2 separate regions of the Homo sapiens genome follow, and region 2 is linked to region 1. Evidence: fine-mapped expression QTL. A gene starts in region 1. The other region holds a variant in brackets. All regions are shown on one strand. Distances are from middle to middle. Region 1 holds the start of SVBP (small vasohibin binding protein). Region 2 holds the start of P3H1 (prolyl 3-hydroxylase 1).

The links.
Region 2: its variant is fine-mapped to the expression of SVBP in left ventricle (GTEx, PIP above 0.99).

The regions. Positions count from the first base shown.
Region 1 is chr1:42,809,838-42,825,707 of GRCh38, forward strand. It overlaps SVBP (small vasohibin binding protein), which reads right to left and starts at 7,560. Exons shown (of 3, transcript NM_199342.4): 1 at 7,353-7,560; 2 at 6,594-6,743. The coding sequence starts at 6,707. ERMAP (erythroblast membrane associated protein (Scianna blood group)) reads left to right here and starts at 7,285. Exons shown (of 12, transcript NM_001017922.2): 1 at 7,285-7,416; 2 at 15,786-15,870. RefSeq lists silencers at 6,434-6,503, 7,064-7,263, 7,414-7,703.
Region 2 is chr1:42,758,687-42,774,556 of GRCh38, forward strand. It overlaps P3H1 (prolyl 3-hydroxylase 1), which reads right to left and starts at 8,342. Exons shown (of 15, transcript NM_022356.4): 1 at 7,821-8,342; 2 at 3,637-3,789; 3 at 515-704; 4 at 166-297. The coding sequence starts at 8,285. It overlaps C1orf50 (chromosome 1 open reading frame 50), which reads left to right and starts at 8,563. Exons shown (of 5, transcript NM_024097.4): 1 at 8,563-8,704; 2 at 8,823-8,938; 3 at 14,877-14,963. The coding sequence starts at 8,626. RefSeq lists an enhancer at 7,601-7,720 and silencers at 7,981-8,090, 8,711-8,850. The variant A/T (reference allele first, on the strand shown) is at 5,855.

The DNA of each region.
Region 1 (15,870 bases):
AACATATATAAAAGGTCAGAAACATTCAAAACAATATATTGTTACACAACAAAATATTTAGAGGTACACAGACAGTAAATTAACGTAGAACAGCAAGAATGATTAGCATAAAATACAGCAAAGAGGGTACTGCTGGTGGGAAGGGTGAGGTACATGACCAGGAAAGGAGTACACAAAGCTTCCCAGTTACTGGTCACGTTCTATAGTTGGGTGTTTTATTCTTAAGCCACATACACACATTATATAAATATACTTTTAACACACACACACACACACACATACATACATACACACACACACACACACACACACACACATATATTTTTTTTGTGAGCAGAGTCTTGCTCTGTCACCAGGCTGGAGTGCAGTGACCCGATCTCAGCTCACTGCAACCTCCGCCTCCTGGTTCAAGCAATTCCCTTGCCTCAGCCTCCTGAGTAGCTGGGACTACAGGCGTGCACCACCGTGCCTGGCTAATTTTTTGTATTTTAGTAGAGACGGGATTTCACCATGTTGGCCAGGATGGTCTTGATCTCCTGACCTCGTGATCTGCCCACCTTGGCCTCCCAAAGTGCTGGGATTACAGGTGTGAGCCACTGTGCCCGGGCCCACATATATACATATATATTTGAAAACCTCTGCTTGCTTCATTCACTAAGTATTTACTGAGCATTTTTAATCTGCACATTACTGTACTAGGGACTGAGATGCAAATTAAATAGCTTCTCAGAGACCTCCAGATCAAGGAGGCAAGATGGTAGGAGAAAGAGGAGACTCACAATGGGTCAGGGTGTCCAGGCCAAAGAATGACTCTCAGTCAAGAAGGAAACGGACCCTAGCAGTGTCAAACGGTGCTTCCACTGCCAATGTGCCTTCCGTTCCCATTCACCTCCCACATCTCTCCTTCACATCTAACTTTCTGGAATCTGGCGTCTGCAGAATTGAATAGAAACTGTCTCTTCCTCCCCACAAAGGGTCTTGTTGCATTACATTCCAGGCAATAAAGATTAAAAACAAACAGGATAGGCGCGGCGGCTCACATATGTAATCCCAGCACTTTGGGAGGCCGAGGTGTGCGGATCACTTGAGGTCAGGAGTTCGAGACCAGCCTGACCAACATGGTGAAAGTCCATCTCTACTAAAAATACAAAATTAGCCAGGCATGGTGGCGGGTGCCTGTAATCCCAGCTACTCAGGAGGCTGATACAGGAGAATTGCTTGAACCTGGGAGGTGGAGGTTGCACTGAGTCGAGATCGTGCCACTGCACTCCAGCCTGGGTGACAGAGCGAGACTCCGTCTCAAAACAAAACAAAAACACCAACCAACCAAACAGAAAAAAAAACAGCAAGGCAGCTGTAGGGGGCAAGGCAAAAAACAACAGACAAAAGTCAGAAGATGTTTAGACCACAGGCCTGCCCCTCTTTAACTACAGGACTCTACTCACATCCCTTTGAAGTGAGGATAATACTGCCTACCTCACAAGGCCATATATTTTACATATCGGATTAACCAAGGTTAAATGGGAGTCACAATAACTCCTGCTTTGGAGCCCTGGTGTGAGGACTACATGTGGCTATGCATGTGTAGGCTTGGCTCGGTCCTGGCACATCTCAAGAGCTGCACGGGGCCAGCTGCTGCTTGAGTGCAGCAACGTTGCATTTCAGCAGGTCAACAGGAACTCAGCAGTTGTTCAATTTAGGGTCCACACAATAAGAGCAGGCTGCCTGCTTGGAAACACAAGATTATTCCTGATCATAATCACTGCTAGTTATCAAATGCTTCCTCTGCCAAGTACTGCGCTATGGGCTTTACACGTGGTATTTCTATTCCTTTTAATGGTCTTCTGAGGTAGATGTTATCCTCATTTTACCAAGGAGGAACTGATGAACTGGGGGTTCAGAGAGGTTAAGTATCTTGTCCAACGTCACATGGAAGAACTGGGATTTATGGAGGAGCTGAGATTTGAAGTCAGACAAATAAATTTAACCTATAGAACTTTACAGAAGGGTGTCAATAAGGGCATGAACAATGTCCTCAACATCTATCCTTACAATATGCACAGAGGACAGTTTCATAGGGCTGTTTTTTTTAAAAACGGATTTTAACATAATTACTATGTGTACATAGACAATTAAGAATAGGGAAAAACCCCAAATTAATGTTTTAACAAGTTACAAGCTGTTACTAAAGACAATATCCTTGGATTTAAAAAAAAAAAAAAGAGTACAATAGAGGAAGTCTCTCATTCAACCGAGCAGTTTAACCAATCTCTTTTAATAAATCCAGCACATTACAGTGGTATAAATTTATCTTTTTTAACACTCCACATAAAAACATGTGTCCTCTCTTACATTTAATCATTAGTAGTCTCTAAAATGGTAAAATAAATTGAATTTACATTAGCAAATGAAAGTGCAAATTTGTACAGCTAGGCTCAGCAGCAAAAGTGAAGAATAAGAATGAAAGGTGAAAAGCTGGTGGATGCCATGCAGAGCGAGGACTTCCATAAAGGTCTGTGCCCTGCGGCCAAACACAGTCAACACACCACCATTTTCTTGTTGCTCTTAAATGAGCAAAACCAAATTTCTTTTTTATTTAATGAAATATTAAATCTTTATTTCCCCCTAACATAATTTGTGATCAAGTAGGACAGAGGTAAGTCCCACCATCACTGGGGACAGTAGCAACACACAGACTTCAGAAACAGCCTTGAATCATCAGTAACATCCTCCCCTGGTAACGTTAGAAGGAATGCATCTAATGACAAATTTGCAATGTTGTCACATTGTTCTAATTTATTTGATTAGTTTATCTGGAAAAACTTTACACATTATTGAAGACAACAGTAAATTATTTTCTTGCTCTGAAAAAATAATGTTTTTTCACATTTTAAAACCTTTTAGTATGCTTTTGCAAAAGTAGTTGCAAGAATATGACAGCTGGGTTTGCAGAATGTCCATGTACAAGTTTGTATTTATAAGAAACTGGTAATCTGCCTATAATTTGCCTCTACAAATAGAGCTCTTTAAAATAATATTTTTAAAAAAACAGGCTTAAACTTTTCCCTATTCATTCTACTTGTAGCAAAGAGGTACTTACTTTTCAAGTATTACATGGTAAAAGGCACAAGTTTTTTTTGCCAATTTTAAGCTGTTAAGCTTTAAGACCAAACTATGTGAAAAAAAATCATGCCTAGTCAATCCTAGTCAATCATTTTATAGCCAAATCCTCTTGTCTTTTAAATAACGCAGAAAAATACTAATTTGCTAAGAAGGAGCACACTGGAAAAAGCCATTTGAAAGTACTGAAGAATGAGGAGTATTTTTTTTCTACTGATGAAAATTATTAGGAAAGCTATCCTGTCTGTTGTCTTTAGCTAGTTTAAATAAATCTTTTCAAAATGATGGTCAAGAAATCTTTAGAAAACTGGAAGAGGGGATGCTCTTTTATAGCATGAAAGGAATTCCATTAATTATAGAAATTCTCGTTAAATTTTGACGTTGGTTCTTCAGAAAAAATACGCATTTAACTTCTGCAGTCTGTTGTGTTTGAACACCATCTACCTGAGCCAGGGGCCCAAGCGTTCCTTCATCATCAAAGGCCAAAACTGGATTCAAAGGAACTTCTGGGCTCTTACTGTTAGTGACATCTAATCTGGATGGTTTCGATCCAATGGGTAAATTTATAATTTCTTCAAAATTTTCATTCTGAACAGAGATACTCCATTTTCATTTGGTTTTCCAAATTGGGGGTGCTCTCCACAGTCACTTTTGATTGGTGTGAGGTAACCACATATGGGCTGGCAACTGGTTCTCCATTTCCCAGAGCATTTGTTGTACACGGAAGTATAGATAGCTCTGTTCCTCCAGTGAGAGCTCCCTTGGCTATATCACCATTTCTCTGATCAATGGTTTTCTTATCTGTAGCTTCTGTTCTCCTGCTTCAGGGCTGTTTCTTATAGCAACCCTCATATTGTTCACCAAAGCACAATGCAGTCATATCATCTGAGGACCCGGATCCAGGTGGGAATGGGAAGGTAAAGGACCACAGCTCTCAGGGGGTCTGCCTTAACCCAAAGGTAGATTTCAGTTTACAGATTAACTTCAAATGCACTAGTAAGTTTACTTATTATGTTTACTGCCTCCCCTTGCTGGAATGCAAGATCCATGAAGGCAGGGATTCTTTTCTGCTTTGTCATCATGTGACTCAAATTCCTCGAACAGTGCCTGGCACATACTAGCAGTTCTTTTTCTTTTTTTTTTGTTTTTGAGACAGAGTCTAGCTCTGTCGCCCAGGCTAGAGTGCAGTGGCACAATCTCGGCAACCTCCGTCTCCTGGGTTCAAGCAATTCTCCTGCCTCAGCCTCCCGAGTAGCTGGGACTACAGGGAGCACCACCACGCCCAGCTAATTTTTTTTTTAGTAGAGACAGGGTTTCACCATGTTGGCCAGGATGGTCTCAATCTCTTGATCTCATGATCCGCCTGCCTCGGACTCCCAAAGTGCTGGGATTACAGGTGTGAGCCACTGTGCCTGGCCAATATTTAATGAATGAATCAGGTTAACAAAAATTAAAAGTTGACAATATCGGCCGGGTGCAGTGGCTCACACCTATAATCCCAGCACTTTGGGAGGCCAAGGCAGTGGTGCACGCCTGTAATCCCAGCTACTCTGGAGGCCGAGGCAGGAGAATTGCTTGCACCCGGGAGGCAGAGGTTGCAGTGAGCAGAGATCACGCCACTGCACTCCAGCCTGGGTGACAGAGCAAGACTCCGTCTCAAAAAAAAAAGAGACTCACCATCAGAGAAATGCAAATCAAAACCACAATGAGATACCATCTCACACCAGTTAGAATGGCGATCATTAAAAAGTCAGGAAACAACAGGTGCTGGAGAGGATGTGGAGAAATAGGAACACTTTTACACTGTTGGTGGGACTGTAAACTAGTTCAACCATTATGGAAGACAATGTGGTGATTCCTCAAGGATCTAGAACTAGAAATACCATTTGACCCAGCCATCCCATTACTGGGTATATACCCAAAGGATTATAAACCATGCTGCTATAAAGACACATGCACACGTATGTTTATTATGGCACTATTCACAATAGCAAAGACTTGGAACCAACCCAAGTGTCCATCAATGATAGACTGGATTAAGAAAATGTGGCACATATACACCATGGAATACTATGCAGCCATAAAAAGGGATGAGTTCATGTCCTTTGTAGGGACATGGATGAAGCTGGAAACCATCATTCTCAGCAAACTATCGTAAGAACAAAAAACCAAACACCGCATGTTCTCACTCATAGGTGGGAACTGAACAATGAGAACACTTGGACACAGGAAGGGGAACATCACACACCAGGGCCTGTTGTGGGGTGGGGGGAGGGGGGAGGGAAAGCATTAGGAGATATACCTAATGTAAATGACGAGTTAATGGGTGCAGCACACCAACATGGCACATGTATACATATGTAACAAACCTGCATGTTGTGCACAGGTACCCTAGAACTTAAAGTATAATAATAAAAAATAAAAAATAAAAAGAGACTCCATCTCAAAAAAAAAAAGCAATGTGGCAATGTCTAGTAAAATTGAGAATGTACCCAGTAATTTTTCTAGTTAAATAACCTACAGAAATTCTAAGGCAGGTGCCAAAGGAGACACCTAAAAGCTTTTCACTACAGCAATGTTTGTAATAGCAAAAAATACTATAAATAATTTAAATGTGCATCTCTGTAAGAATGAATAAATATACTAAGTAAAATGGATGCATAAAATAGACTATTATAAAAATTAATGAGAATAAACTAAATTCTTATATTGGCATGAATAGTTCTAAAAAACAATGTAAGCAAAATGCAAAATAAAATGCAGGAATTTTATTAATGTAAAAATTTAAAATACTACTGTATATTGTTCAAGGATATCTATTAATATATTTGAATGTAAAAGTATAAAAAAAAGTAGTTGTCCATGGAGAAGTAAAAGGATGTAAGACAGGAAATGAACAAAGCAGACAGATAAACAAAACAAAGAGGGAAAAAGAGACCAGCAAGATTTTCCCTGACATTAAATACTAAAATAAAATACTTATGTCTGTATGTGGCTCAATATTGGCAGGGTAAAGTTTAAAGCTTTTTATTCTCAAGTTGATTGTAATCGTTGAGAGAACAAAGGAACACACTGGTGAGTTTAAAGCTTGGGCCTCTACCTGGCATGAGTAGCTGCTTTCCGCACCAAATCCAGAACATCTGTACTGGGGGTGTCTGACACTTGCGTGCTCTCTCTCATTCTGACCCCTTCTTTCCCCTTACATATCATTTTTTTTCCTTTCTTCCTTCCCTTGGGTCTCTTACCACAAAAGCTCCGCACCAGACTGGGGTTCTGACACTAACTTGGCATGTGATTCTGGGCTGCCACCTCACCATTCTGAACCTCAGTGTTGTCCCCTCTAAACCTGGGAGAACACCCATCCTGCCTGGAGGCAAGTATGGCTCGCTGTCAGTTCTCCTTTCTGCTGTTTCTCTATTCCAGCATCATCTCCAGCAGACTACAGGCATACAGAGCCTCCGCCTTAATCTCACCTCTGCTCTTTGTCTCTGCTTCAGCTCCTGCTGGGCTGATTTCTGTTTGGCCTTCTCAACTCTGCTGACAGATTCTTTAACTTTGGTTTTTTCTTTACGTGCAGGTGGATCCATGGCTTGACTTCTGGATATTTCTTAGGAGGCTCTGATCTGGGTGGTACAGAAAGAGGCAGATCTTCAAAACAAAACAAAACAAAAAATACCCTGCCAGTTACTCCTCTAATCCTTTAGCTCCGCCCCATCCTTTGCCAGGTGAGGCAGAGTGGTCTGGTGGCAAGGGCGCTGGATGTGGGGGAGTAGGAACCGAGTCCCAAGGCCACAACCTCGCTGGGTGTCCCTGGGCAAGTCTCCTCCCCACTTTGAGCCTTAGTTTTCTGTCTGCAAAATGGGTTAAGTGTTTTCCTGGCCTCCCTCCAGGAGCTGCTGTGTGCGGGTGAAATGCAAAGACCCCTGTGAAAGCGTTGCCCACTGTGCGGCGTGCGGCACCCAGCGCGGAACCGTCCTAATGGGACGCTGAGACCCAGAGGGCGCCCAGGGTTTTCCCACTGCGGCCGGCCTAACTCCGCCGCAGCAGCCGCTCCTGGGGCCAGGGGGCCGGGCCCCATAGCCAGCCGGGCCCGCCCCCCACCGCCCGGCCCCCCGACCCCGCCCCGGCCCGCCCGGCCCCAGGGGACGGCCCCCGCCTCCTGCCCTCTTCCCTCTCCTGGAGGAAAATGGCGGTCGCTGGAGCCGCCGACCAAGAGGCTTGGGAGTCTGTACCTTTCCCGACCGGGCCACTGGAAGTTGGAGCCTCCGCCGAGTCGCAGACAACGCCTCCGGGAGGGTAATCCTCGCCTTCCCCCGACCACTGGACCCAGCGCTGCCTGCCCACCGCCCCTCGTCCTGGGCGGGGCCGCGCGCCGGGGGGAGGGGCGCAGGGCCGAGCGCCAGGAGGCTTCCGCCCGCAGGAGCGGCCGCGCGTGCGCAGAGAGGATGGCTGGAAACCCGCGTAGAGGGCGGGGCGGGGCAAGCCGGTGCCGGGGCGGGGCAGGGGCGGAGCCACACCGGGGTGGGTGGTGGTTACGGCTAACCAAAGCTTTTTCCCGTTATATTTTCTGCAACAGCTACTAGGTTTTAGAGGGTGAGATCCGAATCCTGGAATTGGAATTGCTCAGAATTCGAATTCCGAGGCTCAATTTCTTAATTCGAAAAGTGGGGATTGATGATTGCCACCTTCTTCATTCATGAGTTTATTGGGAGGATCAAGTGAGATCCCGTTTGCCACAGTGCTTTGAAAAAGGAAATCTTGACAGAAGTACCAATAGCCAGTATAAATACAGAGAACATTCACGTTCAACTGATTACCGAGGAGATGTAAATTAAAATAGCTGGCTGTAATTTTCCAGGTATTACATTAGCAAGGATTGACAAAAATGATAATAGCTACCTTACATTTGGGCTTACTATATTCCAGGCACTGTTCTTACAGCTTCACATTTATTAACTAATTCCTCATAATAAGTGTGTATAATGTATACGTGTATATTATTATCCCCATTTACACATAAGGGAACAGAAGCATTGAAAAGTTAAGTGAGTTGTCCCGGGTCACACAGCTTCTAAGTGCTGGAGCAAATATTTCAGCCAGGATTCATAGGACAATGGCCTTATCCAAAGTAAAACCCTGTTTGGGTCCACTATTTGTTCCTCTATCAAACTGGCAAGAATTGAAACAACTGATAGATGCTAAGCAAGCAATGAACTCAGCCCAGATGGACACACGCTTCCAGTCAAACTGTAAATCGTTAACAGCCTTTCTGGAGGTCAGTTTAGTACTAGGTATCAAAAGCCTTAAAAGTGAGCACAATGCCCCAAAAAGACAAATACTGCATGTTTCCATTCATATGAAGTATCTAAAGCAATCAAAGTCTAAGAAACAGAAAGTAGAATGGTGACTGCCAGTGGCTAGGAGAGAGGGAAAAGAGGAATTGTTTAAAGGGTATAGAATTTTAGGTTTGTAAGGTGAAAAAGTTCTAGAGATCTACTGCACAATGTTTATTTTTTATTTATTTAATTTTTAAAAAATAGATGGGGTCTTGCTCTGTCACCCAGGCTGGAGTGCAGTGGTGTGATCATAACTCACTGTAACCTGGGCTCAAGCAATCCTCCCACCTCAGCCTCCAAAGTATCTGGGACTACAGGCACACACCATCATGCCTGGCTAATTTTTTAAAATTTTTTTGTAGAGATGGAGTCTCACTGTGTTTCCCAGGGTGATCTGGAAATCCTGGGCTCAAGTGATCCTCCTGCCTCAGTCTCCCAGAGTGCTGGGATTACAGATGTGAGCAATTGCGCCCAGCTTTTCCAAAATTTCTACAGTAAACGTTTATACTTTAGCAATCAGAGGAAAGTACATTAAATGTCTTTTTAAAAACCCTATACAAATGCTGATTCGATTATTATTAATAAAAGTAACCAAGTCAGAGTCTATTTCAGAAATCTTGATGTAGTACTGGTATTTTACATTTGTGTCACATGGTATGGTTTATAACGTTCATATAAGCTATGAACTAGATTACAGCTGAAGACACGGCAGGACCTTTAGAAGCCAGCTAAAAACAAACCAGCTATAGGGAATGGAGGAGTGGAAAAGCCACATGGAAGACTGGAAAAGTAGTGGTGCCACTGAGCCACTGTTGAAAGTGGAGAAGGTGTGATGAGTTGGTTTGGGAAACGGTGAGGAAGAGGATAAGTTAGGAGCGTGTGTGTGTGTGTGTGTGTGTGTGTGTGTGTGTGTGCGCGCGCGCAAGAGAGGGACCGAGAGAGAGAAAGAGCTAGATTACGCTTCAAGTGGCAATAGGCAAGAAGAATTGTCCAGTGAGCAATTAGAAGATTTCAGAAAAGAACGGAACTGGAGATACCAGTTTGGGATTCTACATTCTTTATTGGGAAGGTGAAGGTTGGAGCCAGGAGGGAGTGAATGTTGAGGCTGAACACTGTCAAAGTCCCCTCTCTATTCTTTCCATGAGTTTATGCTTTGTCTGTCTCTTTTGTGTCTACCAGTGGACTCTTGGCCAGGCTGCAGAATTTCCTGGTTTGTTGAATGACTAGCAAGAGTTTATAGTAATATAACTAGAATATTTTTACAGTTGAGGTATATACTACACTAAGATTATATTCACTTTATTGAATAATATTTTTTCTAGAGTCAAAAAATTATCTATTTTTATTTGCTTAATGATCTATGCATCCCTTGTTTATTTTTTATTTTCAGAGGTGGGCTCAAGTGATCCTCCCGCTTCAGCCCCTCAGTGGCTGGTACTACAGATGTGAACCAGGTCATTTACCAGTGTCTTTTTTTTTTTTCTTGGCAGCATCCCTCCTTAGACTCATCCTCTCTTTGCTCCAAACTCCTCTGCTTAGCCTTGCTTCACAGCTCTTGTCCTAGGATTAGGGACCTAACCACATTCTGGGGATTCTCTTCTTGTTTCTCCTGTGCCAAATCCCCTGCTCTCTGGATCTTATGTTTTTCCATTCTTGGTTTATTCTCTCATTTTGGAGGAGTATGTTCTCCACTAACTCCCCAGAAGGGGTTCATGGAAGCTAAATTTTTGAGTCCTTGCTTGTCTAAAAATGGCTTTATTTTCTTTCATCCTTGAGTGACAGATTTCCACATTGGAAATTATTTTCCCTCAGAAGTTTAACGGCATTGATTCATTGTCATCTAGCTTCTCATGTGGCTACTCTTGAGGAGACTGATTTATTCTGACTTGTGTTACTTCCCATATATTTTGTTTGTTAATTTGTTAATTTGTTTAGGATATTTTTCTCCTTTATCCTTGATGTTCTGAACGTTCATAACAAACTGTCCTTTAAGTATTTTTCATTCATTATGCTAAGCACTCGGTGGCCCCTTTCAATTGGGAAACAAAGTCTTCAATTCTGGGAAACGTTCTCTGTGATCAGTTTCTCTTTTTTTTTTTTTTTTTTTAACAAATAGAGACAGGGTCTCCCTATGTTGGCCAGGCTAGTCTTGAACTCCTGGCTTCAAGTGATCCTCCTGCCTCAGCCTCCCAAAGTACTCAGATTACAGGCATGAGCTGCTGCACCCAGCCAGTTTCCCTGTTTTTAAATTTTTCTTCATGTTCCATTTCCTGGTTTTGTTTATTCTAATTTACAAGAGATTTTCCTGAGCTGTATCCCCTGGTTCTTCTATTGAATTTTTTCATTTCTGCTACAAAAATGTTAATTTCCAAGAGTTTTTGTTTGATCCCCGACTTTCCTTTTTGGTAGCCTCTTGCTCTTATGTTGTGGATTCAGGATCTTCTCTTATTTCATATTTCTGAGGATTCCAGTTGTAATTTTCTGCTGTTTTCTTCTGCTTCCTAGATTGTCTCTGTTGTTTATTTTGGTCTCTGGCTTTCAAGTTGGAGCTTATCCTCAGACAATAACAGCTACCATTGAGTATCAGCCCCTATTTTAAGTATTTTGCATGTTTTAGCTAATTTAATCCTTACAACAACCCCGGGAGGTAGAGCCAGGCCCTGGTCCCTCCCATCCCAAGCCTGGAAGGTTCTCAGTTGAGAATCAGCTTTCTTCTTGCTGATGTCAAGGGTTGATGTCAGGAACCCTTTATCTGATGTTTCCCCCAATCCTGCCTCCCTCTGCAGGCACCTGGGTTAGAGTTCAGTTTTTCCTAGCTCTATTACTAGTGAGCCCTCTGCTTTCCTTCATTAAAGAAATGTATTGACATCTCTATTGCACAGTTACTTACTGTCCTGTTCTCTTTGTCCTTATAGGCTTTTCCTTTTGCACTCCAAGATTGTCATTTTAGATCATTTTGGGAGGTAACAGAGATAAGCATTTGTGTTCAATGAGACATGTTTATTTAACTGGAAATCTAGAGCTCCCTCTTTTTAAGTCAGGAAGCATATAGACCAAAAAAATTACAGTGATTATTACTGGATTCTGAGATTACGATTATGAGTGATATCTTTATCTATGTCTGTATCTGTTTTTCTCACTCATAGAGTTAGAAGTCTAAAAAGAACATTTCAGATAAGAAACTCATTTTATGATGTGATTTAGACTATCTGATAAAATGCTTCTGGAGAAAGCAGTAAAAATATTAATTATGACAAGTTATAAATTGGTACAATTACTTTGGAAAACAATTTAGTATCATCTATAACCTGGCAATACTACTTCTAGGTATATATTCTGAGAAACGCTTTACATTTAAAAATTATTGAGGACCTCAGGGAGCTTCAGTTTATATGAGTTATATTTTTTGAAATTTTCCATATTAAAAATTAAAACTGACTGGGTGTGGTGGTTCATGCCTGTAATCCAGCATTTTGGGAGGCCAAGGTGCGAGGATCACTTTAGGCCAGGAGTTTGAGACCAGCCTGGGCAACGTAGTAAGACCCCATCTCTACAAAAAAATTTTTAAAAATAGCTGGGCTTGGTGGCATGCACCTGTAGTCCTAGCTACTAGGGAGACTGAGGCAAGAGGATCACTTGAGCCTAGGAGTTCAAGGCTGCAGTGAGCTATGATTGTGCCTTTGCACTCCAGCCTGGGCAACAGAGCTAGACCCTAGCTCTAAAAAAAAAAAAAAAGAAAACTAAGAAAAATTAAATATAATTACTACTTTTAAAAATAAAAATAATAAATTATATAACAACAAAACATATATTTATGAAAAGCAACTTTTTTGAAACAAAAATATTACTGAGTAGCACTGCTTTATATTTATATAAATCCTTTTTAAAAAATTAATTTTTTTTTTTTTAAGATGGAGTCTCACTCTCTCGCCCAGGCTGGAGTGTGGTGGTGTGATCTCAGCTCACTGCAACCTCCACCTCCCAGCTTCAAGCAATTCTTGTGCCTCAGCCTCCTGAGTAGCTGGGATTATAAGCGTGTGCCACCACGCCTGGGTAATTTTTGTATTTTTAGTAGAGACAGGATTTCGCAATGTTGGCCAGGATGGTCTTGAACTCCTGAACTCAGGTGACCCGCCTGGCTCAGCCTCCCAAAGTGCTGGGATTACAGGCGTGAGCCACTGCACCCAGCCCTAATTAATTTTTAATTGACACATATGGTACATATTTATGGGGTACAGAGTAATATTTTGATACATACAATGTGTAGTGATCAGATCAGGGTAATTGGCATATTCATCTCAAACATTTATCATTTCTGTGTTTTGGGGACATTCAGTATCCTTTCTTCTTTATTTGAAACTACATAATATATTATTGTTAACTATGGTCATCCTACAGTGCTATAAAACAGTAGAAGTTGTTCCTCCTACCTAGCTGTAATTTTGTGTTATTGAACAAATCTCTCCCTATCCTCCCCTTCCCTCTCCAGCCTCTAGTAACCTCTGTTCTGCTTTTCACTTCTATGAGATTAACTTTTTCTTTTTTTTTAACATCTAACTATGAGTGAGAACATGTGGTGTTTAACTTTCTGTGCCTGACTTATTTCATATAACGTAATGTTTTCTAGTTCCATCCATGTCACTTTGAATGATGGGATTTTATTCTTTTTAATGGCTATAAATATTTTAGATGTCTGGCTTAATAGAAGACAGCTGTATTCTCAAGCCAGCTATATCTTTCAATCTGCTGCAGTATGTTTTGTGGTTGAAGTGTATGCAATTGGAAAAGGAGCATTTCAGTAGCTTTTTCAGATAATCGTGGATATTCTTTGATAAGACACCAAAACTCAGCAAGTGGTAGTTTTTTAAAGCTTAGTTGTGACATGAAATCTGAAACCATAGCAATGACCTTTTTATACTCTATTACAGCAACACTCACAGTTTTTTCTTGCATTTTAAATGAATGTTTTACCCATGCAGGGTTTTGTCAACACACCCATTGGTCATTTGGAAATTGCTGAGTCACTGAGTTTTACAGATCTTCTAAATGTTGACACATTTCATTATACAACATCAAAAAATCACATTTATTAATATCAATGCCAATCTCATCAGAAAAGTCTTTTGCTATTGTGAGGGTATCAAGCAGCAGATAAAAATTTTCCAAAATTCTAATTTTTGCTCAAAAGATTGAATGTTCTCATTGACAACAAACACTGTCAGTTGCTTTTCCTGAAGTGACAGGTGCACTTTATTCATTTTGGAGAAAATGCCTGCCAAATACCCAAGTCTGAATAATTATACTTTGTCTTTCAGCTGTACTTTCAGGTAAGAATGGTGCTCCATGAGTCAAGCGATTACTTCAGCTCACAACTCAATCACTTAAGGTTTTTTCCTCGATAAAGTCATCATACTTTGATATGCAGCGTAACTGTTTATGCATCCTTCCCATTTTGTCACACAAACTATTAAAAAGATGTGTATCTAAGAGTTGAAATTTAATAAAATTTGTAACTTCTACTACAGTTTGGTGCCACTTCCTGATTTGTGCTAGCTGTTTTACCCACTATTGCTTTTGCAGTGTCCTTGAAAATGTCAATACCGTGAAAAAGGCAAATAACGTCTTTATTATGATGAATGTAGTTTTAACCTGGATGATAGGGCCTCAGGGACTTCAAGTGTTTGTGGACCACACATTAAGAACTGGTGCTCTAGAGAAATTCTTGCACATGTGAGCAGGAAATACCTATCAAGAATGTTCAGGGCACGAGGCCGGGCGCGGTGGCTCACGCCTGTAATCCCAGCACTTTGGGAGGCCGAGGCGGGCGGATCACAAGGTCAGGAGATCAAGACCATCCTGGCTAACACGGTGAAACCCCGTCTCTACTAAAAATACAAAAAAAAAAATAGCTGGGCGTGGTGGCGGGCGTCTGTAGTCCCAGCTACTCCGGAGGCTGAGGCAGGAGAATGGCATGAGCCCAGGAGGCGGAGCTTGCAGTGAGCCGAGATCGTACCACTGCACTCCAGCCTGGGCGACGGAGCGAGACTCTGTCTCAAAAAAAAAAAAAGAATGTTCAGGACAGTATTATTTATAAAAGCTAAAGCCCAGAAACAACCCACATTTCTATCATTAAGGGACGAGAGAAACTGTTGGTAGATTTATATAATGGTCTACTATATAGCAGTGAATGAATATCCTAGTGCTCTGTGAAACAACCTGGATTAATTTCAGTGTCTTAATTTGTACACCCCCAGAACAGAGTGTGAGGTGTGAGACAAGTACTTCAGTTCAAGAGTGTATTTAGGAGGTAATCCCAGGAAGCAGAAATGGGAATGAGCAAAAAAGGAAGAAAAGTCAATAAAAGGTGCAGTACGGAGCTACTTACCACTATGAACCACCGTGCTCACTCCCATTGGGAACACTCAGAGGAATCATGTCGAATACAGCTCAGAGCTGAAGGTGCAAGCCTGGAGCATTTTGTCTTGACTCCTCTCACTGTTGTTTATGTCTCCGAGGTGTTAGCTTTGGTGAACTTCTGGGCTGCACAGCCTTCCAAGGCTTTGTAGAAAGCCCCAAGACAGGCAAGCAGAAAAATGCCATGGCCTATGAGGTGACATGCTAGCAGCTTGCCTGCAAGTCTCAGCTACACCAAAATTGGGTGGGCTGAGGGGACATGGTGTGGGCCACCACAGATGTCTGCTAGACTCAGAAGCTAATGTTGAATAAAAAAAGGGAATAATTGGGAATTATGTACAATGGGCTCCATCTTTATAAAGTTCAAAGGACATAAAAATGTGTAATGTATTGTTAATGATATAATTATGGAGATTATGAACATACAGCTAAGGATATTATGAAAGCAAGACAGGCGGGAAGCGTTTATCACATGTTGGAAAACAGCAAGCTTGCTTATCAGAAGGCACATGTCAGGGTGTAGCTGGAGATAAAGATAGTGAGTTAAAGAAGGTGGTTAATTGGTGGATGTCTTTGAAACCAATCTTCCAATTTACTCTGATTTGAAAAGTAAAGGGGGAAGGTTTTCAGAAAGAATGTGATAGGATCAAAACGCATCAGAGGGAATTACTATTGGCAGCATTGGAGGAAAAGGGAGTGGAGGGGCAAACGTGCCTCCTACCCGGTCAGTCATACTCAGTGGTTCCCTCATTTTTGGGAGCCTCCTCTTTGCTCTGTTCTTTTATCAGGGGCATACAGACAGGGTGTGGCTTGCTGGTTTACAGGGACAGCGAGAAGGGAGTTCTGTGGGGGCAGAGAGAGCCCTGGCCTCTCATATTTCATAAAATATGAACTTTTCCCGGCCCACATCCCTAGGCCTTCCTGATGCGCTTGCCTGCTCCCTGGTCTCTCTGCATGGGGAAGGAGTGTTCCCAGCTTGCAAACTCCAGCTTTGCCTGTG
Region 2 (15,870 bases), 51 kb before region 1:
CAGTTGTTTATAACAAACTACCCAGGGATCACTTGGCATGGTGCCTCCCATAGCTACTGAAATAAGCCAAACACCTTGAGGAAGTAAGTGGCTGTAATCCCTGCCCACCTTGCCTTTAGCTTCTTAGTTAGCCAGCAGAGAAAGAGGAAGGAAAGTAGGCCTTACTGTTATAGTAGGCAAACTGCAGATAATTATAATGCGATGGGAGGAAGTCTTCAAAGGGCTTCTCTCGACTTGGGTGGGAAGCAAGCTCCGTGACACAGTTCTGCTTACAGTTGAGGACCTGGATGTAATGATCTGAAAGGAATCAAACAGAAGGAATAACTATGAGGTCACTCTTTAGAACTCAAATTCTGGTTAAGATGAACAAATTCAAATGGAAGCAATTTTTCATCAGCTTCTCAGATTTAATAAATTGAGGAATGAGGGTGAAGAGTCCCCATTTATATTATCAGATGGTGACCTTAGAGTCCCAGGAGGCCTGGCTGAAGGTCTGGCTCTGAACTGCACGCACCTGTGATGGCCTGGAAGAGGTCAGCGTTGTACTCAAGGTAGTTGTAGCCATCGTAGTCATAGGGCCCTTCGCAGAGGGCACGGCACTCCTCATAGGCCACAAAGTATTCTTGCAGCGCCGCCTCTAGGTGGGGCACAGCTTCCTGTGGCTGTTCCTCTGAGTAGAGTCGCACTCCCAGTCGAAATTCTTGCTACTGGGAAGAAGGAGCACTCAAATGCAGGCCACAGAGGAGGAACCCTCTCTCCTTGCCCTCAGCCACCTTCACAGGGGTCCTAATTTCCTGTTCCTCAGGTTATGGATGGAAAGGGGTGACCTGGGTACCACTATAAAATGAAGGCCTTTTGTAAATGGTCTTTACAAAATATTTAGCTCTGGAAATTTAAAAACATTTAGCTCTTTTTTTCTTTTTTTGAGACAGAGTCTCACTCTGTTGCCCAGGCTGGACTGCAGTGGCACAATCTCAGCTCACTGCAACCTCCACCTCCTGGGTTCAAGTGATTCTCTTGCCTCAGCCTCCCTAGTAGCTGGGATTACATTGTGCCCAGCTAATTTTTGTATTTTAGTAAAGACGGGGTTTCACCATGTTGGCCAGGCTGGTCTCCAACTCCTAACCTCAAGCAATCCTCCCAACTCGGCCTCCTAAAGTGCTGGGATTACAGGTGTGAGCCACTGTGCCTGGCCAAAAAACATTTAACTCTTAATCTAGATGAAAGATATCTAGGAGTTCATTATGATTTTCTTGTACTTTTCTTCCCCCCCCATTAGTGACAGATTCTTGCACTTTTTTTTTTTTTTTTTTTTGAGTCGGAGTTTCACTCTTGTTGCCCAGGCTAGAGTGCAATAGTGCGATCTTGGCTCACTGCAACATCCGCCTCCAGGGTTCAAGCAATTCTCCTGCCTCAGCCTCCAGAGTAGCTGGGATTACAGGTATGCGCCACCACGCCTGGCTAATTTTGTGTTTTTAGTAGAGATGGGGTTTTGTCATGTTGGTCTGGCTGGTCTTGAACTGCTGACCTCAGGTGATCTGCCCGCCTCGGCCTCCCGAAGTGCTGGGATTACAGGCATGAGCCACCGTGCCTGGCCTAGGTTCTTGCACTTTTTTGTAGGGCTAACAGTTTTCAAATAAACACAACTTACTTTTTGTTTTGTTTTGTTTTGAGACAGAGTTTTTTTTTGAGACAGACAGCCCAGGCTGGAGGGCAGTGGCATGATCTCAGCTCACTGTAACCTCCACCTCCTGGGTTCAAGTGATTCTAGCGCCTCAGCCTCCTGAGAAGCTGGGATTACAGACATACACCACCACACCTGGTTAATTTTTGTATTTTTAGTAGAGACAGGATTTCACCATGTTGGCCAGGCTGGTCTTGAACTTCTGGCCTCAAGTGATCCACTCACCTCGGCCTCCCAAAATTCTGGGATTACAGGCATGAGCCACCACGCCCGGCCAACACAACTTACTTTTTTTTGTGTGTGTGATGGAGTCTCGCTCTGTCACCCAGGCTGGAGTGCAGTGGCACAATCTCGGCTCACTGCAACCTCCGCCTCCTGGGTTCAAGCGATTCTTCTGCCTCAGGCTCCTGAGTAGCTGGGAATACAGGCACACACCACCACGCTCAGCTAATTTTTGTATTTTTAGTAGAGACAGGGATTCACCATGTTAGGCAGGACGGTCTCAATCTCCTGACCTTGTGATCCGCCCGCCTTGGCCTTCCAAAGTGCTGGGATGACAGGTGTGACCCACTGCACCTGGCCACAACTTACTTTTAAAAGTCATTCTTTTTTTTTTTTTTTTTTTGACTGTTGCTCTGTCACCCAGGCTGGAGTGCAGTGGCACAATCTTGGCTCACTGCAACCTCCACCTTCCAGGTTCAAGCTATTCTCCTGCCTCCATGTCGAGTAGCTGGGATTACGGGTGCATGCCACCATGCCTGGCTAATTTTTGTATTTTTAGTAGAGATGGGGTTTCACCATATTGGCCAGGCTGGTCTCAAACTCCTGACCTTAAGTGATCCACCCACCTCGGCCTCCCAAAGTGCTGGGATTACAGGTGTTAGCCACTGCGCCTGGCCTATAAGTCATTCTTATATTGTTTCTAACATTCCTATTTTATAATTAAAATGTAAGGAACCATAAACTCTCTATAAAATGCTATATCATCACAGACAGTCCCTCCTTTGGAACTTTTCCTGCTAAACAAATAGAATGAGAACATTGAAGGATACTGTAACATTTATTGTAGTGAAAATCAAAAACATACATGACCAAAAAAATGTGACTAGTGAATTAATATAGTCTCTGCATAAGATGGACTATCATGCAGCCATAAACAATTATGTTTTCAAATAAAACTGAAGACATGAGAAAAGACTCATGATAATAATGTTAGTTAAAAAATGATGATGGGGCTGGCCATGGTGGCTCACACCTGCAATCCCAGCACTTTGGGAGCCCAAGGCAGTAGGATCGCTTGAGGCCAGGAGTTTGAAATCAGCCTGGGCAACACAGTGAGACCCCGTCTCTACAAAAAATAAAAACAATAGCTGGGTATGGTGGTGCATGCCTCTAGTCCCAGCTATTTGTGGGGCTGAGGCGGGAGGATCACTTGAGCCCAGGAGGTCAAGGCTGCAGTGAGCTATGATCACACCATTGCACTGCAGCCTGGACAACAAAGTGAGACCCTGCCTCAAAAAAAATAAAAAAGATGATAAAAAATGCATACATGATATAACACCAAATTAGATGAAAAAATTATATACGGAAGACTTAAAAAATAGGGCAAAATATAAACTGGTTTTCTTAAGGTGGCGGTATTACAAATGATTACTTTTTATTTTATACTTACCTACATTTCTACAATGTTATACAATGAACATTCATTACTTCTGTAATGTAATTAGAAAACAACCTTAGTAATGTCATTTAAAAAAAAACAAAAGAATGCATGCCTGTAGTCCCAACTACTCAGGAGGCCGAGACTAGAGGGTCTCTTGAGTCCGGGAATTTGAGGTTACAGTGAGCTATGATCAAGCCACTGCACTCCAGCCTGGGTGACAGAGCAAGACTCTGTCTCTAAAATAAATTTAAAAAGAAAGAAAGAAAGAAGGGGATAAAGTTTTTTTCACCATATGGGGTTGAGTCTCAAGATCCTTGAAGTCGGCCTCCTTCACTCCAGACATGGTTTGGTAATAGTCTAGGTTCTGCTGCATTTCCATGTGCTCAGGATTGCCCACGAAGAAGGTGTGTGCTGCAGCAACAGCTTTCTCCAACTTGTTGATCTAAGAATGAAGCATGAGAAGGTGGATAATGCTCACATCCAATCTCTGAACGTTTGTGTCCACATGAGCAGTCCACATAAACAGGAAATCCCTGCCTCCCTGAGCCCTCCACTCAGCGTGCCCAGCCCCTGCCAGCCCCAGGAAGCACACCTATTGCAGGAACTACCCACGACAGATTAGGAGCATAGTGCCCTGGGCAGATTTGTAGCTCTTTCCCAAGTCAGATTTAGGGGTTCCCCAGATTACAGGAAGTAGCAATGTTCCATTTTAAAACAAAGGTCATATTGTATGGGGAGTGCTGTGAAAGACTGACTGCCCACATAATATGTTTTCATGCTGGGTGCGGTGGCTCAGGTCTGTAATCCCAGCATTTTTAGAGGCCGAGGCAGGTGGATCACTTGAGCTCAGGAGTTCAAGACCAGTCTGGGCAACATGGTGAAACCCTGTCTTTACGAAAAATACAAAAATTACATGGTACTATATGCCTGTAGTCCCAGCTACTCTGCAGGCTGAGGTGGGAGGACGCTTGGGCCTGGGAAGCAGAGGTTGCAGTGAGCCAAGATGGTGCCACAGCACTCCAGCTTGGGTGACACAGCAGGACCCTGACTCAAAAAAAAAAAAATACATATATATATTTCATGAATCAAATGTAATGCCTGAGCTGAAGAAATTCTGTGGCTTCAAGGATTTAGGGGTAGAGAAAAAAGAGCAGCTAACAGACTATGCCTAAGAATTTTCCTAGAAAAAAATTTTTTTTTGCATAAAATAAAATGAAGAATTTTTGAGACATTTAGGGAAAAGGTGGATGGCTAAAAATTCTAAGGTCCTTTACTAAGTCCAGACATAGTATTTTCTGACTCAAAGCTCAGGGCTCATGAGGTTCAAACAAATAGCTCTAAGAAATCTGAGGGGGTGGTCGGGGGCGGTAGCTCATGCCTGTAATCCCAGCACTTTGGGAGGCCGAAGGGGGCAGATCTCTTGAGGTCAGGAGTTTGAGACCAGCCTGGCCAACATGGTGAAACCCCGTCTCTACTAAAAATACAAAAATTAGCTGGGCGTTGTGGCGCACACCCGTAATCCCAGCTTCTTGGGAGGCTGAAGCAGGAGAATCGCTTGAACCCGGGAGGCGGAGGTTACAGCGAGCCGAGATCACAGCACCATACTCCAGCCTGGGTGACAGAGCGAGACTCTTGTCTCAAAAAAAAAAAAAAAAAAAAAAAAAAAAGAAATCCAAGGGGGGAGAAATAGGCTACAGACCACAATGCCCACAGCAATGGACTCCAGCATGTCAAAGTAACACAGGTTTCATATATAGAATCCAACCAAATAAATCACTGATGATCTAGTAATTAACTATGTGGACACTGGTATCAAAGAGACCAGCCGTGGCCAGGCACGGGGGTTCACGCCTATAATCCCAGCACTTTGGGAGGCTGAGGCGGGCGGATCATGAGGTCAGGAGTTTGAGACCAGCGGATCATGAGGTCAGGAGTTTGAGACCAACAATAGCTGGGCGTGGTGGCATGTGCCTGTAATCCCAGCTACTCAGGAGGCTGAGGCAGGAGAATCGCTTGAACCCAGGAGGCGGAGGTTGCAGTGAGCCGAGATCGCACCATTGCACTCTAGCTTGGGCAACAAGAGCGAAACTCCGTCTCAAAAGAAAAGAGGGCTGGGTGCGGTGGCTCACGCCTGTAATCCCGCACTTTGGGAGGCCGAGGCAGGTGGATCACAAGGTCAGGAGATCCAGACCATCCTGGCCAATATGGAGAAACCCCATCTCTACTAAAAATACAAAAATTAGCCGGATGTGATGGCACGTGCCTGTAATCCCAGCTACTCGGGAGGCTGAGGTAGGGGAGTCACTTGAACCAGAAAACCAGAAGTCAGAGGTTGCAGTAAGCCAAGGTCGCCACTGCACTCCAGCCTGGCAACAGCGAGACTCCATCTCAAAAAAAAAAAAAAAAAAAAAGAAAGAAAGAAAAGAGACAGGCCAGCATCACATCTGGGCTTAATGACTCACTGACTGGCTGGGCAGTAGACAAGATACTTAAAGTTTACTTTCTAA[A/T]CTCAGTTTCCCTAATCTATCATCTGGAGATAGCATTCTCTAGCTATCTCCTAGCATTGTTGAGAGTTCAACGAGATAATATGCAGCCTGTAATACATGGTGCTGGGCACAGATTAAGTGCTCAATAAATTTTAGGTGGTATGATTAATATGCTAAGAAAACTTATTTTCTTATCATTGGTACTAGTAAAGGCACACTAAAGGAGTCAGCCCTGGTTAGGTGACCCAAGGTAAATAACTCCCCATCTCTGTACCTCAGTTTCTTTAACTGTAAAATTAGAAATTTTTTCAGGTCTGTCCCTTTCATGGAATTACTCTAGCTCTTGTGTCTTTCAGCGCTGCTCCTGCCTTTCTCTGTTCTCCCTCATGTCCTCACTCCTCTCTCCACCCCCAGCCTTCTTTACTCTCTAAGCACTGAGGTACTTAACCTCCTCTCTTGTGGACAAATGTCTGCCTCCTAATCAAGTGCCACCACTTTCTCCTTCTTCCAAGGCTCATTCACCATGGCTTCCAGAATAAGCGTTTTAAAACCCAAATCTGAGGATGGCTCCCTGCAGTCCGCAGAATTCTCTTCCAAATCTGGCCTCACTGACTTTTCTAGCCGCCTCTCCTACTACTCCCCACACACATCTCGACATTGCAATCACAAGAGTTCATTTTTTTTCCTGAATACATCATGCTTTGGTTCTACTTTTCTCTCTATCTGGAGGAGCCTTCTTTCCTCTCCCCCTGGCAATACTTAGGGCAGGCTTCAATATTACCTCTTCTTTGAAGTCTAATTTCTCTGAGATAAAGCTAGAGTCTCCCTCCTTTGTGCTCCCGCAGCCCTAAGTATATGCCCTTGCAGTAGCCCTTACTACAGTAACTCTTAACAGCAAAGCAAGACAAAGCAAAGACGTTAGTCGAGCATTTAATTACTTGTACAAGAACTGGAATGCAGTAGGTATGCAATACATGTTTGTCAAATAGTTTTAGAAAGTGCTATGATGAAGCGACATAACCAAAGACATAACGCAATTATTTTGATTTCAAGTCCAGCGCTCTTCCGAGTAACTAGGAAAAATGAGGGGAACTGTGTAGGCAGAATGCTGTGGAGGGGTGGAAATCTGAGGTCCCCAAGAGTCTCTAAGTGTCTCTTTAGATCGAATCGAAGGTCTTTTAAACAACAGATATACCAGATATAATGCACAACTCTTTCTCCCCCCACCCCCAATACAGTGGGACTAATAACAGCATCTACCTGACAAGATATTATGAAGATTAGGGCAAATGCGTTAATAAATGCAAACTGCTTAAAATAGTGCCTGGAAGTATGTGCTGGCTATCATCATCATCATCATCGTCACCATCACCACCACCAAACAAGCCTGGAACGCTCCAAGCCCAAGTGTACACTTGGACACATGGCACTCTGGCATTCCGAAAAATACTCATTTTCTTTGTAAACCTGGCAGACTAGCCAGAGGGTCCCCCCCCCGCCCCCACACACACACAGAAAGGGCCAGGCAGCCCCTGCTGGCGACGTGGCAACCTCACATCCTGAAAGAGAGCTGCTGAATCAAACAGCAGGAAAAGCACCACTGGAAAACCAACCGGAAGGGAGATATTGTAGACCGCTACTAGCTTCTCACTCGGACACTTACAATGACATCAGAATGGGAGACCCAAACTGCCGCTTTAATTCCTTCCAGGAGATTTCCCAGGGAACAAAATGGCCATGAGTTTTGCTTGGCCTGTGCCCTAACCCCAGGCTGGACCTTTGGGGTTAGCATCTGCCCATGCGAACTGGGCGAGGAAGGTCTCCTGCCAGGGAGCAGCTCTCCCCGGCTCCGAGGAGAGCTCCCCAGCCAGGAGGCCACTTTCCCCTCCCTGCGGACACTTCCCCGATCCCCCAAGCTCCTCAGGTCCCCTGCAACACTCCTCTCCCCAGAAGGACCCCGGCCGCCTGGTTCCAGGCAGGTCTGCACCTTGAAGTAGGCGACCTGCAGGTAGTTGTAGGGGCTCCGCTTGCGGAACTCCAGCTCCATCTCTTCGCTGAGCGAGTGGGCGGCCGGCGGCCCGAGGCAGCGGCGCAGGCAGGCAGCGCGACGCAGAAGGCCCCCGAAGAAGCTCAGGTCGCGCAGGGCGGCGGCGCCCGAGGCCTGGGCCGGGCTGGGGGACCAGTCGGGGTCCAGCTCCCACGGGAAGTCGGCGGCACACTGGGTGCGGCAGCGCAGGCGAAGGGCGCGGAGGGCTGCCCGGGAGCGCAGCGCCCGTTCCATGCTCAGGACCACCCCGGGCCAGTCCCCGCGCGCGTAGGCTGCGGTCCCCTCGGCGAAGAGCAGATCAGGCGTCACCATGCCCCATCCTGCCTCGGACTCGACCTCGGCTTGGGAGGCAGCGGCCACGACAGCCAGCAGTGTGGTCAGCAGCTTCAACGCGCGTACCGCCATCGCTCCCTCAGACCTAACGGAACCGCCAGCCACCCGCCACCAAGGCCGGAGTCCTACCCCCGGCGAAGGCCCGCCCCCGGGCGAAGCCCCACCTTCCAAGCCGGGCGGCGCATGCCCACGAGGCTTGCACCGCCTCTTTTCCTTTCAGTCAGCCCGGATCCCCCCACCGGCCCTCAGCGAATCCCGGCGCGTCAGCCGGAGCCCCGCCTCCGAGCTCAGGCCTTGCTCAGTCGAACTGACGCCCAGTAGACAAGAAAGACGGAAGCTCCGCCCACGCGCCTTTATGCGCAGGCTCTTCCTACTCGCACAGCCCAGGGAGTGGGGAGGATAAGGCGCTGTCATGGAGGACGCCGCCGCGCCGGGGCGGACCGAGGGGGTCCTTGAAAGGCAAGGAGCGCCGCCAGCTGCAGGCCAGGGAGGTATGCGGGGCGGGAGTCAGCAGGGGGAAGTCAGCTCCCGCGAGGCAGCCGGTCTCGGGGCTCCGCGGGAGGCCGACGGCGGGAGCTCACGGCTTGTGTTCCTGGGTGTGTGTCGCAGGAGCCCTGGTGGAGCTCACCCCGACCCCCGGCGGCCTGGCCCTGGTGAGCCCCTACCACACCCACCGGGCCGGGGACCCCTTAGACCTCGTGGCGCTCGCAGAGCAGGTGCAGAAGGTGAGGAGGCGCGGCCGGGGCAGCGAATAACCATCTTCGTTCACGTTGTACTCTGCGTCTTTCGGCTCAGACCTCACTACCACCTATGGTGGGGGTGGCATTTGCTCTTGTCTCCATTTTACAGACGAGTAAAGCCGACTGTCATTGTGAGTCGGTGGCCTGATTCGAATGACCTTCTGGGACCAAAGGTTCCTCTAACTGCAACTTGAGTGCCCATAATCTTCCTTCGTGGGAAGGTTTACACAACACTTTAGTGTTCATTATTTCATTTGCACCTTAGGACAGCCTTGTGAGGTAGGCAGTACAGAGTTATTCTTCCCATTTGACACAAAGAAAAGTTCTTCGGGAAGTTTCAAGGTCCGCTTATTTTAAGCTGCTTCCCATAAGATCTTTGTTACCTGAGAGTTTAAACATCTTCTAGCAGGGCAAGGACTCCAAGTTTAGTCCTCATTAAACACAGTATTCCCAAGCCCAGTGTTTATATATGGATGGCCAAAATAAGTCAAATAAGGAGGAAATGTGAAATAATGGAAAAAACACTGGAAGTTTGGACACATGAGTATTAATCCCACTTTTGATACTAACTTGCAGTGCGACTTAAGGCAGATTACTTCTCTCTGGACCTCAACTATTTTATCTGTGAAGTGAAAGGTTTGAAGTAGTAGAGCTCCAAGATCTAAAGTTTTGTCATTATTCAATGAAAAACCAGATTCCTTCTTATCTCTTATCAAGACTTCCAGTTGTACACCCTCTTCAGTGTCCACAGATGGAGGGTCCTGCTGTTTTAAAGATTATCATGGCCCCTTATCCCTGTATACACTATCAGATTTGGCCTTGATTATGTTCCAGGGTCTTTGCTTTGCCCAAAATTATTTAATGTGCTCAAATTCCCTCACATCTCTTTTTTTTTCAATGATCCTAGAAATCCTTCGAATCCTTTTTTTTTTAAAATTAAGAAAAATTCAGATACGCAGAAAGCTCCTTTAATTCAAAACTTGGCTTTCTTCTTTTTGAAGAGCTGGGGAGCAAAGTGCAACTTTTATTTATTAAGAGAATATGCATCTAGTTAATCAGATTACTCTTATTGGGAGGGAGGTTGGCAGGGACAGAATCTTGTGCACACAACGTATTCATGTGCTATTGAATGACTATCGTGTTTATTACGATGGCCTGAACAGATGGAAGAAAGAACACAGTTTTTGTCTTTCATCCTATAATCTTATGAAATACAGAGGATGCATTATTATGCTGCCTCTGTTTCCCCAATACAATCTGTATTTGAGAAGCTGAAGAAAAAAAAAACTTTAGAGACAAACAAATTGAATCAAACATATTAACTATCTAAAATGTACTTTTTGGCCAGGTGCCGTGGCTCACACTTGTAATCCCAGCACTTTGGGAGGCCAAGGTGGGTGGATCATTTGAAGTCAGGAGTTCGAGACCAGTCTGGCCAACATGGTGAAACCCCGTCTCTACTAAAAGGTGTGGTGACTCATGCCTGTAGTCTCAGCTACTCGGGAGGCTGAGGCATGAGAATCGCTTGAGCCCAGGAGACAGAGGTTGCAGTGAGCCGAGATCGCACCACTGTACTCCAGAATTGGTGACAGAGTGAGACTCTTAAAAAAAAACAAAAAAATGAGGCTGGGTGTGGTGGCTCACGCCTGTAATCTTAGCACTTTGGGAGGCTAAGGCGGGAGGATTGCCTGAGCTCAGGAGTTGGAGACCAACCTGGGCGACATGTGAAACCCTGTCTCTACTAAAATACAAAAAATTAGCCGGGCATGGTGGTGTGTGCCTGTAGTCCGAAGCTACTCTGGAGGCTGAGGCGGGAGAACTGCTTGAACCTGGGAGGCAGAGGTTGCAGTGAGCTGAGATCACACCACTGCACTCCAGCCTGGGTGACAGAGCAAGTCTAAAAAGAAAAAAAAATGGTGGTGGGCTGGGTGCAGTGGCTCACGCTTGTAATCCGAGCACTTTGGGAGGCCAAGGCGGGTGGATCACGAGATCAGGAATTCAAGACCAGCCTGGCCAACATAGTGAAACCCTGTCTCTACTAAAAATACAAAAAATTAGCCGGGCATGGTGGCAGACGCCCGTAATTCCAGCTACTCATGAGGCTGAGGCCGGAGAATCACTTGAACCTGGGAGGCAGATGTTGCAGTGAGTGGAGATTGTGCCACTTCACTCCAGCCTGGGTGACAAAGTAAGACTCCGTCTCAAAAAAAAAAGTACTTTTTTAGCAAGACTGACCCAGGTATTGGTGTGTGTTCAGAAAGCTCAGGAGGCCTGGTATTAAGGCATGAATTTTGGAATCTGACCTGTGTTCAGATCCTTTGCTGTTTATTATCTGTGAAACCTTGGACAGGTTGCCTCATGTCTGTGAGTCTTAATTGCTAAAATGAGAAAGTGAGGTTATCATCTCCAGCGTCATAAAGGTGTTGTGAGAAGTAAATGAGATGAATGTAAAGGGCCTCAGAGTAGTTGAGGCCAGGGTTAGTGCTTAGTAGTTGTAGGTACTCTTCCCTTCCTTTCTTTTTTATGAGGCTCTTTTGTTTTTAAGTTGTTCGTGAAATATTTTGCATTTTTTTTGTTTGTTTCTTTTTTCCTTTTTTTGGACCTCAGACTAATCCATATTTTGCATTTTATATTAACTCTTCAAAATATAAATTCAAATTTTGTTTATGAGATTTATTGCTAACACCTTAAGAAAAGGGAGGGTTATTATAAGGCCACCCCTAATCTGGAACTACCTTAGCTCTAGAAATACCTACTCTCTCCTTGGCCATATATGGCTCCTCCTTTCTTTCTTTCTTTTTTTTTTTTTTGAGATGGAGTTTCGCTCTTGTTGCCCAGGCTGGAGTGCAATGGCGCCATCTTGGCTCACAGCAACCTCTGCCTACCGAGTTCAAGCAATTCTCCTGCCTCAGCCTCCCAAGTAGCTGGGATTATAGACATGTGCCGCCATGCCTGGCTAATTTTGTATTTTTAGTAGAGACAGGGTTTCTCCATGTTGGTCAGGCTGGTCTCAAACGCCCGACCTCAGGTGATCCATCCGCTACGGCCTCCCAAAGTGCTGGGATTACAGGTGTGAGCCACCACACCTGGGCTTTCATTCTTGGAACAAAATGCAAATTCTTTTACCATGGGCTACAAGACTGCACAATCTGGTCTCTGCTCTCTTTTTAAACCCTGTTCTACACATTGCCCATCACTAACTACTCTTCAGCTGCACTGGCCTCAAATGCCTGCAAACTTTTTTTTTTCCAGCTTTTTTCATGGTCGGTCCTCTCCTTTCATTTAGACCCAAGTCAAATGTTATATCCTTGGTGAGGCCTTCTTGTCTGAAGAAGACCGTACCCTACCCCATCCAAATGACAGTATTATTAAATTGAATTCAAATACCTCTAGGCTACATATACTTTCCAATTCCCCACCACTCCCTATTATTAAACTTCATAAAAATGAAGTAGCTTTTTTACTTAACTCATTTGTTATCTTTAACCTGCTTCTACGACATAATTGTGGTTATTTCCTTCATAACAGTGCATTGTTATGAGTACATATAATATTAGCTTTAATCATCTTTACTTTTTGGTATCTATTACTCACTGGAGCTGTGCTTTAGGTAGCCACTAGCAACATTATGTCTGTTAAGCACTTGTGTTACGTTGTTAGTGTGGCTGAGGAACCGAATTTTGTATTTTATTTGATTTTAATTAATTTGAATTTAAAAAACCTGATAATTACTTCAATTATTGGAACTCAAGTATATTGGAACAATTTGAGTATGTGAATCAACTTTTTCACATATAAATTTTATTAAGTTTAAATACAGATGAAGTATTTCTGATGAAAATTTAGCATCCAAATTGAGATGTGCTGTGAGTACAAAATAAACACTATATTTTGAAGGCTTAATATCAAATGCAAAATATGGATTAGACTGAGAAGGACCAAAAAAAGAAACAAAAACAAACAAAAAATGCAAAATATTTCATTAACAACTTACAAATAGTGATTACATGTTAAAATGAAAATGTTTTTGATATATTAGGTTAAGTAAAATGTATTAGCTGAGCACGGTGGCTCATGCCTGTAATCCCAGTACTTTGGGAGGCTGAGGCAGGCGTATCACTTGAGGCCAGGAGTTCGAGGCCAGCCTGGCAAACATGGCAAAACCCCATCTCTACTAAAAATACAAAAATTAGCGGGGCATGGTGACGCATGCCTGTGGTCCTAGCTACTCAGGAGGCTGAGGTGCGAGATTTGCTTGAACCCGGGAGGCGGAGGTTGCAGTGAGCCTCTGCACCACTGCATTCCAGCCTCCGTGACAGAGCGAGACTCTGCCTCAAAAAAAAAAAAAAAAAGTATTGTTAGAATTAATTTACTATTAACGTGGCTACCAGAAAATTTAAAATTTTATATGCAACTTGCCTCATATTTCTGTTGAACGGTATTAGACTTGACTTGCGATCTTGACAAAGGCAGGGACTTCTCTTTCCTGTTTGCCAGTACACCCAGTGCCTAGTGTGGTGTCTGACACATAGTAGCTGCCTAATATACATCTGTGGGACAGATAAATGACTCAGTTTACTTGTGTGGTTTCTGTTCACTCATAACACTGGTTTATACCTGAACTTTGCCTTAAGACTCCTCAACTAACCAGCAAATTCTCTTTAATATTTCTTAGTTCAGGTTCTAGTTTAATCTCCTCATTTCTTTACCTTAATTGTGTATAATCAGCTTTTCTTAAAAGTAAGGTGGAAGTTTTTGACAGAATTCTATTGCCTGAGTGGTAATCCTTCCCAGCACATGAATTTGTCACATTAGTCTCTCCTAGCTTTGAGAATTTGATCTATTTTAAGAAATGTCCTGGCTGGGCTCAGTGGCTCACACCTGTCATCTTAGACCTTTGGGAGGCCGAGGTGGGCGGATCACCTGAGGTCAGAAGTTCGAGACCAGCCTGGACAACATGGTGAAACCCTGCCTCTACTAAAAATACAAAAATTAGCTGGGCATGGTGGCGGGCACCTGTAATCCCAGCTACTCAGGAGGCTGACATTAGAGAATTACTTGACTCCAGGAGGCAGAAGTTGCAGTGAGCCAAGATTGCGCCATTGCACTGCAGCCTGGACAATAAGAACGAAAACTGTCTGAAAAAAAAAAAATGTCCATTGCCTTCAGTTGCACTTTGTGGCACGTGACAGGTAGTCTTGTGTGTACATTATAACTCTGTTTCAGGTCCACATCATAATGCAGTCTTTTAAAATACATTTTAAGTAATAATTAGAAATGCACATATAAGTTAACATTTAAGTAGTTGTGATGTAAATAACTGAGGAAATGGTCAGATTAACGCATACTTTCTCAGTTCAGGGGGTGTGGGGGTCACACAGAAAAACCCGAATACTTTCTATGTGTATCTAGATTTCTACCTTAGCAGATGATAAGGGCCAGATCACAAGTGTCTTTTAATTATTTAAAATCCATCCCTGATTTCACAAGTGTTTAAACATGAGAAAATGGAGACCTGAGAAATGTGTGGTGTTTGTTAGGTAAAGAGCAGGAGGAAAAATGGATTGGTTGGAGGAGAGGATATATTCAGTATATTTGGTAGCAGGAGAGAGAAAGAGAGAAGGCATGCTGGAGAACCAAAGAAGTTCAGTGTAACTGCAGTTCATAGCGAAGGGGTGGAAAGCTATGGGAAATAGAAGAGAGCACTTAACTCTGTGGCGTGGAGTCATGTCAGGGTGGCCTTCTCATGACAGTGCTATCTGAGTGGGGCCTCGGATGAGTGGGAGGCTATGGGGCAGTGGCAAGAATGGGAAAAATATTTTAGGCAGAAGCAAAATATTAACATAACCCTGGGATCAAGATAAGAACATCATAGAAGTCTTTTCCTCTTTCAACCCACAGTTTAGTTTTTTCTCACCTGTAGGCTGATGAATTCATCCGAGCAAATGCCACCAACAAGCTGACAGTCATAGCTGAGCAAATCCAACATTTGCAAGAACAAGCCAGGAAGGTAAGGAATGACTGTTAGACAGGCTTTCATTTTCTTTATTTAGTTCTCAGGATTGGCTGAACTTGTTTATAATCGTTGTGACTTTTTATGTCTTTAATACCTCCTAGAAATGTAGAGGTGTTGAGTAAAATAGAAGGAATAAGCTTAAGAGGTTAAGTATAAGTTTTTGTTTGTCTGTTTGTTTGTTTTTGAGACAGAGGTTTGCTCTTGTTGCCCAGGCTGGAGTGCAGTGGCATGGTCTCAGCTCACTGCAGCCTCTGCCTCCCGGGTTCAAGCGATTCTCCTGTCTCAGCCTCCCAAGTAGCTGGGATTACAGGTGCCCGCCACCACACCCTGCTAACTTTTGTATTTTTAGTAGAGATGGGGTTTTGCCATGTTGGCCAGGCCTGTCTTGAACTCCTGACCTCAGGTGATCTGCCTGCCTCAGCCTCCCTTGTTTTGTTTTTTCCAGGAGAAGGTTTCATGAGGTAAAGCATTTAACAGGGGATTATGTTTTCATTTATAAAAGAAATGTACTTAGCACAGAAAAATAGGAAAGAAGCTTAAAAATTACCCAGGGTCATTAATGCTCAACATTTTGAAATATCTTTTTTTTTGAGATAGGGTATCACTGTATCACACAGGCTGGACTGCAGTGGTGTAGTCTCAGCTCACTGCAACCTCTGCCCCCTGGGCTCAAGTGATCCTCTAGCCTCAGCCTCCCAAGTAGTTGGGAGTACAGGCATATGCCACCACACCTGGCTAATTTTTTGTATTTTTAGTAGAGACAGGGTTTTGCCATGTTGCCCAAGCTGGTCTCCTGAACTCAAGTGATCCACCTGCCATGGCCTTCCAAAGTGCTAGGATTACAGGCATGAATCACTGTGCCTGGCTTGAAATATAATTTTTCTAAAGGCATTTTTACAGC